Linked DNA regions of Homo sapiens. The protein of the gene in region 1 interacts with the protein of each later gene in a pairwise test. Each region holds a gene or a part of one and is shown in the gene's direction. Other genes may lie near its edges. The genes, in order: SYPL2 and ATP13A1.

Region 1 (3,810 bases):
TGAGTAACTGGGACTATTAGCAGGCACCACCATGCCCAGCTAATTTTTTGTTTGTAGTTTCTGTAGGGGAGGGTCTTGCTATGTTGCCTATATGTTGCTAGTCTCAAATTCCTGGGCTCAAGCCATTCTCCTGCTTGGCCTCCCAAACTGCTGGGATTACAGCTGTGAGCCACCATGCCCGGCCCCTGCTTTCTTAAGGAACCTATAAGGAGCCATTCACTGACTAACTGCCAACGGGTAAAAATATTTCCAACTGTGCTGCCCTTCCCAGAATGTGACACCCTAATCACATCCAGTTCTGGGCACCAGAAGCTAAGAGGAATAAAGAAACTTCTAAGAGGAATCAGATGGCCACAGAACTGACAAAAGATTAGCGAATTCCTATGAGGAAGAGTTAGAGAAGTTCCACTATTACAATGGTGAGGCCACTTTGAGTAAGTAAAGGGTAATGATGCAGAGGCTTCGAGTGACTCTTCTCTACCTCTGTGAAGAAGGCGGGCAGACAGGGCTCTACTGCAGTCTTCATCATTTAATTCAGGAGAGGAGGGTATTTAGGCATTGGAGGGAGGTTTTACTGTCTTCTTTCCCAGATATCTTTAAACATGGAGACAATTCTCATTTGTCTGGAATAAACCTCCTGAAAACAGAGAGGTGCCCATTATTTGGAGAGAGGCCAATGGCTCCAGCATGGAGATCTGCAAGGCCAGGCGCTGCAAGCCGGGGGCAGTGGCACTGGACACCTCGCAGGGGCAAAGCACAGCTGTTGGCAAGCCCAGTCAAGAGTACACTGACAGTGTTACTCTCAGAGAGTGAGAGAGTTCCAGGGCTGGAAAGGGCCTCTAGATTATCTACTCCAAACCCCTCCATTTAAGATGAGGAAACAGGCTGGGCTCATGCCTATAATCCCAGCACTTTGGGAGGTTGAGGCGGGCGGATCACAAGGTCAGGAGACCGAGACCATCCTGGCTAACACGGTGAAAACCCGTCTCTACTAAAAAAAATACAAAAAATTAGCTGGGCATGGTGGTGGGCGCCTATAGTCCCAGCTACTCAACAGGCTGAGGCAGGAGAATGGTGTGAACGCAGGAGGTGCAGCTTGCAGTGAGCCAAGATTGCGCCACTACACTCCAGCCTGGGCGACAGAGCAAGACTCCATCTAAAAAAAAAAAAAAAGATGAGGAAACAGACTCAGAGAGCAGAGTGACTTATCAGAGCTCACCTGGCTAATTAGTGACAGGACCAGGTCTGGAACCTAGGTTTCCATACTCCTAGTTCAGGTCTCCTTTCACTCCATAATGCTAACAAGCATTGGCAAAATAAAGTGCATATAGCTTCTATTCTAGACTCTGGATGCAGGGCTGACATACAGATCAGCTGTCTTCCAAGTGCTTAATGTCCAAGACACTGAGTCTCGAAGAAAGATACAGAGAGTGAACAATTAAGAGAATAAGCTCATTGCTTAATAAGAACATGACATTGTGTACAAGTCAAAGGTAAGTGCACAGGAAATCCAATCTGAGCAGATGATGTGGAGGATAAGACATTTCAATTTCTCACCTCCTTTTCTTTTTTCTTTTCTTTTCTTTTCTTTTTTTTTTTTTTTTTGGCGGTGGGCGGGAGAGGGACAAGGTCTCATTCTGTTGCCAGGCTGGAGTGCAGTGGCACGATCTCGGCTCACTGCAACCTCCGCCTCCCGGGTTCAAGTGATTCTCCTGCCTCAGCCTCCCAAGTAGCTGAGATTACAGGCATGCGACACTCTACCGCCAGGCTGATTTTTGTATTTTTAGTAGATATGGGGTTTCACCATGTTGGCCAGGTTGGTCTCAAACTCCTGACCTCAAATGATCCACCCGCCTCAGCCTCCCAAAGTGCTGGGATTACAGGTGTGAGCCACCGCACCTGGCCTCTCACCTCCTTTTCTAACCAAAGTGTGTTTCCCAGAAAGAAATCTGAAAATCATAGGATGAGGAAATTTTATTTCACTTGAGAGAGAAGGTGTAGTAAAATGTGAGGAAAGGTGGAGAAGAAAACAATTCGAGTGACCTGAGACACCTCTGGATCTTAACACTGAGAAATGGCAGCATCAACAGATGACAAAGGGAAATACCAGTGGGGAAACAGTGGAGACTGATAAGGCAAGTGGAGGGTACTTTTCTCTGGGCTTGAGCCAAGATTGTCACATTGGCCCAGCCAGCACTATTGCTAGAAGGCCATGTGCCTTTTGGGGAAGAGGAATTAGGCTGTCAGTACTATGGGACAGTAGTATGGCCCATCTGGGGTGGCTTGGTAGAAGCTGGCCCCTCCAGCTATACCTCCACCAAGGCAGGAAGCCACTGGAAGTTAGCAACTAGGAAACAAGATTAGATGACTAGTTCAAAGGAGAAATGAAAAGCGTTCTAGGCATGTCTGATCTAGGTTGATGCAGGGGAATCTTTTTGAGTGTGTCTCTCCCTTGGGAAGGAAATTCAAGTCTATCTGTAAGCTAGAAGTTTCCTAAAGCCTGAATTGCAGAGGTTTTGTGTTAGTCATCTTAAGGAGGCTACCTGTGGTCCCCAAGTCATGCCCAATGGAGAGATCTGGCAACTGTCCATTTCCTGCCTCTTCATCTCCCTTGCAGACACCACTCAGTCAACCTTGTATTCATTTGGCTATTTGGTCCAGCAGCCTGAGGCTGGAAGATAAATGGAAGCCATGGGTTTCTACCTAGGAAGAACTTGATTAAAGGGGATCCTCACTCTCCCCCACTCCCGCACTTAATGTCTGCACCTGCGGGGAGTCACGGTTAGTTCTCGACTTTGGCCAGTTGAGGCCTTCTGACTCTCAAAGAGGCTTCACTCTCTCTCAGCTCTTTGCTATTTTCGCCTTCGGGTCCTGTGGCTCCTACAGCGGGGAGACAGGAGCAATGGTTCGCTGCAACAACGAAGCCAAGGACGTGAGCTCCATCATCGTTGCATTTGGCTATCCCTTCAGGTGAGCAAGAATTGGTTCCAACCCAGCACATCATCTCTCACTTGACTGGCAGGACCTGCTTGGTCTCTTCCTCCTCCAGAAACCTAAAAACCATTCATTGCGTGCCACTCCAGATTCAAATAGAATGACAAAACTTAGATCCTTTCTGCTTTTTAGCAATTTCAGACACATTGACCAGAGCAAAACGTAAGGGAAATACAGATTGATCACTGTTATAATAATGTTCCAGTCCATGGACAACCCATGGCAGGTCACACCAGCTCATACAGAAAGAGCCAATGCAGTTTGGGATGGAGGCTTACAGGAACCTGGACAAGCTGGACAGGTCTCTCTGACCCTCAGTAGCCTCCTCTCTGCCTTGAAGGTAGGGAAGCTTATTAGTACTTACATCCTAAAGAGTTGATGTGGGATCCTCAGCCAGTACGACCAGGATACAAGTGGGCACACCTTGACAGGGAGGTAGAAGTGATCTCTTTTCTGGGTATTTGAGAGCTTAGGAAGTAGGGAGCCCAGGTGTTCAGGGGAAAATGGGGATGAGGCTCACCTTTTCAGAAATTTCTAGTATCAGCACCCAAGTTATATTAACTGTCTCATATATAATAGGCTGTGTTTTTCTCTTTAATTTGTCCACTGTCTCATTGGAAAGCCCAATAAAGCCTGAGAATGGGTGATTCCAACCTTATCTTGGCCACTCTGGGCCTGCACTTTCCAGAGGCAGAATGAAGCTGATCTGCCTAGTGGTTTGGCTACCAGAAAGAGAAGAACTACATATATTGCAGTTGTGACCTAAAGGGCCCTGGAGACACTTGGGAATACATGGTCACCATGTCTGGGCAGGGT
Region 2 (3,810 bases), on another chromosome or scaffold:
ACCCCAGAGGCCTTGCCCTGGGAACAGGATGGGGCCTGGTCTCTTGCAGGGCCGAGATGGTGGTGCCTGACTTCTCGGAGCTTTTCAAGGAGAGAGCCACAGCCCCCTTCTTTGTATTTCAGGTAAAGCAGCAGCTCTGGCCCATCTCCCCATTTCCTCCCTTGGGGCTTTCCTAACCGGATCAAGCCTGCCCACCACTTCTAAACCTGGAAGCCTCTCCCCACCCTCACATATCAGATCCGGTGGGTGGAAGGGGCTCATGGGAACAGGGCGGGTAGGGCAAGGACAGACAGGCTGGTATCCCACAGGTGTTCTGTGTGGGGCTCTGGTGCCTGGATGAGTACTGGTACTACAGCGTCTTTACGCTATCCATGCTGGTGGCGTTCGAGGCCTCGCTGGTGCAGCAGCAGATGCGGAACATGTCGGAGATCCGGAAGATGGGCAACAAGCCCCACATGATCCAGGTGTGGCTGCCAGGGAGACCCAGGTTGGGGGTGCAGCACAGGTGCGGCTTCTGTGCTGACACCCATGCCCCGCCCAGGTCTACCGAAGCCGCAAGTGGAGGCCCATTGCCAGTGATGAGATCGTACCAGGGGACATCGTCTCCATCGGTGAGGCCGGGTTCCGCTCAGTCCCAGTGGGAGCCCCAGCCTCAGGGCCTCTGGCCAACCCTCCTGCCTCTGCCCTGCAGGCCGCTCCCCACAGGAGAACCTGGTGCCATGTGACGTGCTTCTGCTGCGAGGCCGCTGCATCGTAGACGAGGCCATGCTCACGGGGGAGTCCGTGCCACAGATGAAGGTACTTGGTGGAGGATGGGGATCCTCAAGCTGTTCAGGAGGAAACAGGCCAGGAGGTGGAGGCCCAGGGGGTGGCGGGGATCCCCCTCAGGCACAGGCGGAGGAGGCAGTGTGGGCACAGATGAGCTCTGTGGACTGGGGAGCCGGGTGGTGGGGGCGAGGAAGGAGGTGAGAGAGCCAAGGGCATCCAGGGTACATTGGTGCCCTGGGATGTCAGACCAAGGTGGGCTGGGAGCAGTCCAGAGGGGTGAGTCCCAGACGAGGCCAAGTGCAGGCCCCAGAGAGCAGGCACTGTGAGTGCAATGGGGAGAAGACAGGACGGGGTGAGGGTGAGGATCTGGGAGCTGGGTGGGATGTATTGGTCGGGTGGGGATCCCCCTGGCTCATTCCAGCCTCAAGGTCCAGCTGTCCAGGAACTCAGATGGAGAAGGAAGCAAGGTAGGCCTGGCCATCCAGATTCACGATCTTCCTCCCCAGGAGCCCATCGAAGACCTCAGCCCAGACCGGGTGCTGGACCTCCAGGCTGATTCCCGGCTGCACGTCATCTTCGGGGGCACCAAGGTGGTGCAGCACATCCCCCCACAGAAAGCCACCACGGGCCTGAAGCGTAGGTGCCTCATGGGCGTCTGGGGGTATCTGGGCTTCCACCCCCTTTGCCCGTCTGCTTGATCATGAGGGAGTCAGGACGAGGAGACAGGCATGACGGTGACTCTGCTTCTCTCCCCAGCGGTTGACAGCGGGTGCGTGGCCTACGTCCTGCGGACCGGATTCAACACATCCCAGGTGCGGGGCCAGGTCTGGGGAGGGCGGGCCCCAGGGCAGTTGGACAGCCAAGGTATCAGCCCTTTCCGACCCCAGAACATCTGCCCCACGGGCTGACTCTGGCAGCACGGCCCTGGACCTGGGCCAGGGTGCAGAGGCCACCCCAAGACCAGGCCCACGCTTCCAGGCCTGAGCTGCTGGAGGGAGTCCAGACAGCAGAAAGGCTGTTCCTCCATTCCTCCAGGGCAAGCTGCTGCGCACCATCCTCTTCGGGGTCAAGAGGGTGACTGCGAACAACCTGGAGACCTTCATCTTCATCCTCTTCCTCCTGGTGTTTGCCATCGCTGCAGCTGCCTATGTATGGATTGAAGGTAAGCGCCACGGCCTCTGTGGTCCCCTGCGCCCACCCTCCGAGGCTCCAGGTTGGCAGGCCCTGTCTCCACAGGTACCAAGGACCCCAGCCGGAACCGCTACAAGCTGTTTCTGGAGTGCACCCTGATCCTCACCTCGGTCGTGCCTCCTGAGCTGCCCATCGAGCTGTCCCTGGCCGTCAACACCTCCCTCATCGCCCTGGCCAAGCTCTGTGAGTGTGTCAAATGGGATGGGGTGCCGAGTGGGCTGGGGCCAAGCAGGACCCCTGACCTCACTCCCGCCCCTAGACATGTACTGCACAGAGCCCTTCCGGATCCCCTTTGCTGGCAAGGTCGAGGTGTGCTGCTTTGACAAGACGGGGACGTTGACCAGTGACAGCCTGGTGGTGCGCGGTGTGGCCGGGCTGAGGTAAGCATCAGGGGCCCTGCAGCAAAGGTCACCCAGATGGGGTTTCTGGGAAGTCGAGAGACAGGTGGCCCATCCACCCCAAGCCCTTGCAGTGAGGGCCCGTCAGAGGCCCTGCCTCGGGTTCATTTCCAGGGGCTCCCCACAAAGTCCTGGGTGTCAGCCATGGTAGCGGCACGGGGGCTCAGCTCAGGCCTGGAACATCCCACACCAGCCATGCACCACATGACCCCCAGGCACAATGCCTGGCTTCTGGGGGCATCTGTGAAGCAGGTGCAGGTCTCATAAAGACCCAGTTGGCGCCCAAGCCACCCCAGTGACAAGCACGGAATGAATGGCCTTGGGGGTCCTTCTGCTGGTGGGGATGCAGCTTCGCCCTACCCGCCTGCACTCTGTAACCAGCTGTTCCCCGACCTTGCAGAGACGGGAAGGAGGTGACCCCAGTGTCCAGCATCCCTGTAGAAACACACCGGGCCCTGGCCTCGTGCCACTCGCTCATGCAGCTGGACGACGGCACCCTCGTGGGTGACCCTCTAGAGAAGGCCATGCTGACGGCCGTGGACTGGACGCTGACCAAAGGTGAGGGGCTGGGGCCTCAGGCCCAGCAAGGGGGAGCCACTGGCTCTCACAGCCCTAGGCAGGTGGGCTGCACCCCTCAGAGCATCTTGGGGACAGGCAGGCCTACAGCTCTGATGCTCCCCGAGGTGGGTGGCCAGAGGCTCACTTTAGACCCAGGATAGGCCACGTCCTTGGGTGTCCCTCTGGGTTGGAATCTGCCCTGCCCTGGCCGAAGCCACAGTGCCAGGGTCCTCCAAGCCCAGGTCTTCCAGCTCTGGACCAACACCTGCTCTAGCCCAGAGCCCCGATCAGGCCCTGGGGGAGGCAGGAGGGAGGTGGGGGAGGCCGGGGTGAGAGGTAGGGGCTTGGCTGCCTCTTTGGAGCAAAGCCCCTCAGGACTCGTACTTATTTGTTTCCAGATGAGAAAGTATTCCCCCGAAGTATTAAAACTCAGGGGCTGAAAATTCACCAGCGCTTTCATTTTGCCAGTGCCCTGAAGCGAATGTCCGTGCTTGCCTCGTATGAGAAGCTGGGCTCCACCGACCTCTGCTACATCGCGGCCGTGAAGGGGGCCCCCGAAACTCTGCACTCCATGGTGAGCTGGCCCCAGCCTGGGGCAAGGGGTGGGGGCGCGGGGCAGCCCGTGACATCCCCCTGCATTCCCTGCAGTTCTCCCAGTGCCCGCCCGACTACCACCACATCCACACCGAGATCTCCCGGGAAGGAGCCCGCGTCCTGGCGCTGGGGTACAAGGAGCTGGGACACCTCACTCACCAGCAGGTACGGGCCCAGGCTCCCCCTGCCTTCACCATGTGCCTGGCCCGTCAGCTCCTCCCTGAGTCACCTCCTGTGTCCCACAGTGCCAGGTTGAATGGTTGTGATTTTGTCCTCCTTGCCCCGCCTCCAGCTTCTACCT

The links.
Region 2: the proteins of SYPL2 (region 1) and ATP13A1 interact in binary tests that used the Homo sapiens proteins (3 or more experiments, as listed by UniProt).

The regions. Positions count from the first base shown.
Region 1 is NC_000001.11:109,472,736-109,476,545, forward strand, and holds part of SYPL2 (synaptophysin-like protein 2), read left to right. Parts: intron 1-2,845; coding exon 2,846-2,970; intron 2,971-3,810.
Region 2 is NC_000019.10:19,653,648-19,657,457, reverse strand, and holds part of ATP13A1 (endoplasmic reticulum transmembrane helix translocase), read left to right. Parts: intron 1-49; coding exon 50-122; intron 123-308; coding exon 309-464; intron 465-541; coding exon 542-611; intron 612-691; coding exon 692-798; intron 799-1,274; coding exon 1,275-1,404; intron 1,405-1,524; coding exon 1,525-1,580; intron 1,581-1,803; coding exon 1,804-1,930; intron 1,931-2,004; coding exon 2,005-2,142; intron 2,143-2,218; coding exon 2,219-2,339; intron 2,340-2,757; coding exon 2,758-2,915; intron 2,916-3,313; coding exon 3,314-3,489; intron 3,490-3,563; coding exon 3,564-3,674; intron 3,675-3,810. UniProt on the Homo sapiens protein: Endoplasmic reticulum translocase required to remove mitochondrial transmembrane proteins mistargeted to the endoplasmic reticulum.